Linked DNA regions of Homo sapiens: region 2 is linked to region 1. Evidence: fine-mapped expression QTL. A gene starts in region 1. The other region holds a variant in brackets. All regions are shown on one strand. Distances are between the middles of the regions. Region 1 holds the start of SRA1 (steroid receptor RNA activator 1). Region 2 overlaps LOC101929719 (a long non-coding RNA gene).

Region 1 (2,500 bases):
CTCTGGGTCCATGCCTAACTCTGTACCGTTTTATTCCTCAAGGCCTATAGCCTGTCACTCCTTGAAGCCTTCTCTGCCTGTCCCTCCGATCCTTGTCCACCGTCTATTTATTGCCCAATTTATTGTTTATACGGATGACTGGGAGGCACTGCACCACAACGTAGGACCCTGGCTCCCCTTTCCTTGGGTCCTTGTGTTCCTTGCCCCTGTCCAACCCTGGACAGTTGGCTCTACCTCAGTAACACTTTATAGCAAAATCAGTGCAAATAAAAATCCCTCAGTGACCTCACTGGATGTGAGTATATTGGGCCTGGGACAGGGCTGGGGGCTAACACCCTGTGTGAGATGAGTGTCTTTGTGTCTGTGCTTGATGTTGGTGGCTCTCTGTAGTCACATGACAGCATGGGTGTGATGGAGATCTGACTTCATTCAACAAACATATTTTCTAAGGAGTTCCCTGTGCCAGGCACTAAGCTGGGCACTGGGAATGTAATAAAATAGTCAAGGTCCCACCTTCTAAGACTGTCCGACAGGGAAACGAACAAGAGTCAAATAAGGCAGAAGATGTGATGTAATACACCTACGAAATCTCAGAGGGTTGTAGGGTCGTGGGAGCTCAAGTGAGACACTTAACCTGGCCTGAGACATTCCAGAAGGCCTCCTGAAGAACTGACATCTGAACTGAGAACTGAAGGAAGATGAGTACTAGTGAGGCTACCGGACGTGAATGTGGAGATTGTGCAGGGCAATGCAAGAGGAGGCTGTAGAAGTCAACCTGGCTAGATCACAGCGGGGTGTATGTGGGGCAGGAGCTTCTTTGTTTGAATTTGCTCCTGAGAGGATGAGGCCTCCTAGAGCACTGGCTCCTGGACAGCAACCTCCTTTGGTGCCTTGTGACCAGGGCCCTGATGGTTCATTAGATGGAGCCTTCGAGTCTTAGGGAGTTGCCGCAGGGTCCCCACAGCGGCTCCCGACGGTTGTGAACCAGCATCCATCCTCCACGGATTCCGGCAACCCGCCTGGCCCTGGACGTGTCTCAACTGGCCCGCGTGAGGGGCCGCCCCGGAAATGACGCGCTGCCCCGCTGGCCAAGCGGAAGTGGAGATGGCGGAGCTGTACGTGAAGCCGGGTGAGCGCAGCCGGCGGGCTAGGGCACTAGGTTGTCGCCCCGGCCTAGGCTGGGGGCGGTTGCGGCGCTTAGTATGGACCCTCTGTCTCCCCCAGCCCCAGTATAAGCTAACAGTGGAGTTCCGGGCTCGCTTCACACATCCCTCGCCTCCGCAGGCAACAAGGAACGCGGCTGGAACGACCCGCCGCAGTTCTCATACGGGCTGCAGACCCAGGCCGGCGGACCCAGGCGCTCGCTGCTTACCAAGAGGGTCGCCGCACCCCAGGATGGATCCCCCAGAGGTGCGTGGGGCCCCTGTGCTCGGAGACAGACGGAGAATGGGGGGGGGGGGGTGTAAGGCATAAGCCTGTTTGGAAGGCTTTTTTCTCTCCCCGAGGGCTCCTTAAGGAGAGAAGTTTTGGGGCTCCAGTAAGGGTCTCAGAGCAGGTGCTTTTCCGAGCCCCTTCTCTGCTGCTCAGGTTAATAAATGGTGTATTGATTTAAAAAGACTATTTTTTCATCCTAGATGATCTTATCCAGACCTGTGGCTTTTAATATAGTTTTAATCCTGAAGTTATTTTTCTTTGTTAACCTATACCTCTTGCCAGAACCGTATAGTGGCATATTCATTTGTCCATTCTGTCTTCACTTAGGTATATGATAATCGTCAGACTTCACAGTTTTTCATTCATTTAATCACTGTTATTTACTGAGCACTTCTATAAGTCAGGCACTGTTTGAGGGCGAACTAGACAGCAGTGAGAAAAAAAAAAAAAAGATCTCTGCTTTCAGGAAGTCCACGTTGCAGCACTGGAGATGGGCTGAAAGATGAAATAGTGGTGAGGGTGCTACAGAAAATAAGCGGTGATGTAATATGACTGGGTAACGAGGTGTCTGAGGGGCTGACATTTAAGCCACACAAAGATCATGTACAAAAGCATTCCAAGCAAAAGAAACAGCTGCAAAAGGAATAAGTTTGGCCAATTCAGAGACTGATGAAATACAGAGTGGCTGGCTACAGCATAGTGGGCTTTGTAAAGCAGGATGAGGAATTTGTATTTTAATCTACATAAAGTTAGAAGCCATTGAAAAGTTTAAAGTAGAGGAGAGCCACCTTTCCCCCCGAGAATTTTCCAAGCCATTAAATGGGCTGTGCCGTGGCCCCCATAAAGGGGCTCAGGTTTGGTTCTTTCAGTGGCCCTCCATTCTCCACACCCTTTTTGCTGTAGAAGAATGATACAAGGCTTGGTTTCTTAAACTCAGCAGTATTGATAGGTTGTGGCCAGATAATTCTTTGTGAGGGACTTTCCTGTGTCTTATGTTAATCAGCAACTCTGACTTCTACCCAAAAGATGTCAGTAGCATCCACCCAGTTGTGATAGCCAAAAGTGT
Region 2 (3,027 bases), 390 kb after region 1:
TCTGCCTACCCCACCATCATGAAGAATTTCTTCTTTCTTTCTTTCTTTTTTTTTTTTTTGAGATGGAGTTTTGCTCTTATTGCCCAGGCTAGAGTGCAGTGGCACAATCTCGGCTCACTGCAACCTCTGCCTTCCGGTTTCAAGCAATTCTCCTGCCTTAGCCTCCCAAGTCACTGGGATTACAGGCGCCTGCCACCATGCCCAGCTAATTGTTTTTGTATTTTTAGTAGAGACGGGGTTTCACCATGTTGGTCAGGCTGTTCTCGAACTGCTGACCTCGTGATCCACCCACCTCGGCTTCCCAAAGTGCTGGGATTACAGGCATGAGCCACCGTGCCTGGCAGAATTTCTTTCTTCCAGAAGTTTTATAGTTTTTTTTTTAATAGTTCTTTGATTTATTTTGAGTATGGTATGAAGTAAGGATTGAAATGCATTGCATTCCATATGGATATTCAGTTATTCCAACACCATCTGTTGAAAAGTCCATCTCTTTACCTGTAGTTATTTAAATTTTGTTGTATTGGTCTCTCCTACTAGTCTATAAGTTTCATATATTGTTCTAATGTAACCTGGGCTCTTCTCTATCCCTGCTACCTTCTTACAGGTAGAGAAAGCAGAGAAAGAGCATGCTTGCAAGTTAATTCAGGACATGATCCCAGGGAGCAGGAATAGGGGACTGGGGAGACTCATGAAGTAGGAACAAGGGAAAGCCAGTGCCATGGTGTGTTATAGAGCTGGTCACCACTGTGGGCAGCTGGGGCTTGACCCAGCTGGGATGTGATGAGGAGCAGTGTAGAGTGCACCTCCTAGTTGTCCACTGAGTGTCAGAGAAGAAAGCACATAGCCACCAACCCCAGCCGCCAAGGGCCCAGGGTTACTCCCAAGGGGTTAACATCCTCAGACATCCAGTTTGCAGTACTGGAGTCCAGGGAGAAGCCCCAGCAGAAGGCAAGAGCAGAGCCGTGTGGAGCAGCTGAGCCTCGGTGCGTTTACCTGCTCCAAGCTGGTTGCCACAGTGATGGCTGAGTAAAACGTGGGCCAAAAGGATGACAGGAGGGTTACAAGAGGTTTCCCATACACATTCATTCCACAAATATTATTTCCTTCTATATGCCAAGCACTGTGTTAAGCACTGGAGATAGCCATCAAAAAGCCAAGCCCTGTCCTTATAGGGAGACAGACAGGACGCAAGTCAACAATTGATATAATATTATATCAAGGAGAAATAAGTGCTATGAAGAAAATAAAACAGGATAAGGGAACCGAGGGTGAGCGCAGGGATGGGGCTCATTTTGACCACCAGGGAAGGCCTCTGAGGAGCTGACATTAGACAGAACCAAATGAGGAACTGAGCCATGTGTATACCCAGGGCAAGAACATTCCAGGTGGAGGGAACCGCAGGTGAAAGACTTGAGGGAGGAACAAGCTTAGGGCATTAGAGAAACAAGGAAGTCACTGTGGCTGGAGCAGAGTGAGGGGAAGAGGCATAAGAGATCAGGAGAGGCAGCCTGGCAGGCCCTTTGAGTTTGAATTTTATTCTGAGTGTGATGGGAAGCCACTCGAAGTATTTAAGAAAGGTTATAGGCCGGGCACAGTGGCTCATGCCTGTAGTCCCAGCAC[T/A]TTGGGAGGCTGAGGTGGGCAAATTGCTTGAGCTCAGGAGATTGAGACACACCTGGGCAGCATGGTGAAACCCCATCTCTAAAAAAATACAACCCCAAAACCCCAAAATTAGCTGGGTGTGGCAGTGTGCACCTGTAGTCCCAGCTACTTGTGAGGCTGAGAGGCTGAGGTGGGAGGATTACTTGAGCCCAGGAGGTTGAGGCTGCAGTGAGCTATGATCACACCACTGCACTCCAGCCTGGGCAACAGAGCAAAACCCTGTCTCAAAAAAAAAAAAAAAAAAAAAAAAAAGAGGGTTATGACCTGGTCTTATTTATGTTTTAAAAGTCATGTGGGTGAGACCGGCCTGGCCAACATGGTAAAACCCAGTCTACTAAAAATACAAAAATTAGCCAGGCATGGTGGCACACACCTGTAGTCCCAGCTATTTAAGAGGCTGAGGCAGGAAAATCGCTTGAACCCAGGAGGTGGAGGTTGCAGTGAGCCAAGATTGCGCCACTGCACTCCAGCCTGTGCGACAGAGTGAAACGCTGCCAAAAAGAAAAAAATTATGTGGGGTACCATTACACACCTATAGTGGGGCAGGGCTAAAATCCTAAACACAAAAACAAAAGAAGCGGTAATATCCAGTGCTGGCAGGGATCCAAAGAAACTGCAGCTTTCACACTGCTGGTGGGAATGCAAAATTTGTATAGTCAGTTTGCAAGAGTTTGGCTATTTCTCATAAATATGCCCTTACCATACAACCCAGCAATCCCACTTGTAGGTATTTTCCCACAGTGAAATGATACTTCTGTTCACACAAAAACCTGTACACAAATGTTTATAGTGACTTTATAATTGTCCAACAACTGGAAACAATTCAAATGTGTTTCAACTGGTAAATGTATAAACTGTATAAACTGTGGTACAGCCATATAAAAAGGAATGAACTATTGGTAATGTGTGCAACAACTTCAAGGGACCTTGAGGGTGTTATTCTTGGTGGAAAAATTCAATATAAAAATGTTAGATACAGACCAAGGCAGGCGGATCACAAGGTCAAGAGATTGAGACCATCCTGGCCAACACAGTGAAACCCCATCTCTACTACAAATACAAAAAATAGCTGGGCGTGGTGGTGCGCACCTGTAATCCCAGCTACTTGGGAGGCTGAGGCAGGAGAACTGCTTGAACCCGGGAGGCGGGGGTTGCAGTGAGCCAAGATTGCACCACTGCACTCCAGCCTGGAGACAGAGCAAGACTCCGTCTCAAAAAAAAAAAAAAAAAAAAAGAAAAAAGAAAAAATGTTAGATAACTATGTGATTTCCTGTATATAACGATCTCAAAATGACAAAACGACAGAGATGGAGAACACATTCATGGTTGCCAGGGGATAGAAAGAGAGACAAGGAGGAATGAAGTGGG

What was found. PIP is the estimated chance that this variant, and not a neighbour inherited with it, causes the effect.
Region 2: its variant is the best candidate, but not a certain one, in a credible set for the expression of SRA1 in whole blood (TOPMed, PIP 0.51).

Annotation. Positions count from the first base shown.
Region 1 is chr5:140,556,057-140,558,556 of GRCh38, reverse strand. It overlaps SRA1 (steroid receptor RNA activator 1), which reads left to right and starts at 1,084. Exons shown (of 5, transcript NM_001035235.4): 1 at 1,084-1,129; 2 at 1,285-1,410. The coding sequence starts at 1,105. It overlaps APBB3 (amyloid beta precursor protein binding family B member 3), which reads left to right. Exons shown (of 13, transcript NM_133173.3): 13 at 1-289. RefSeq lists enhancers at 655-714, 805-1,164, 1,030-1,851 and a silencer at 2,375-2,500.
Region 2 is chr5:140,160,812-140,163,838 of GRCh38, reverse strand. The region is part of intron 1 of LOC101929719 (a long non-coding RNA gene); the gene reads right to left. Among named protein-coding and RNA genes, the nearest start is that of CYSTM1, 13 kb to the left of the region's middle. The variant T/A (reference allele first, on the strand shown) is at 1,621.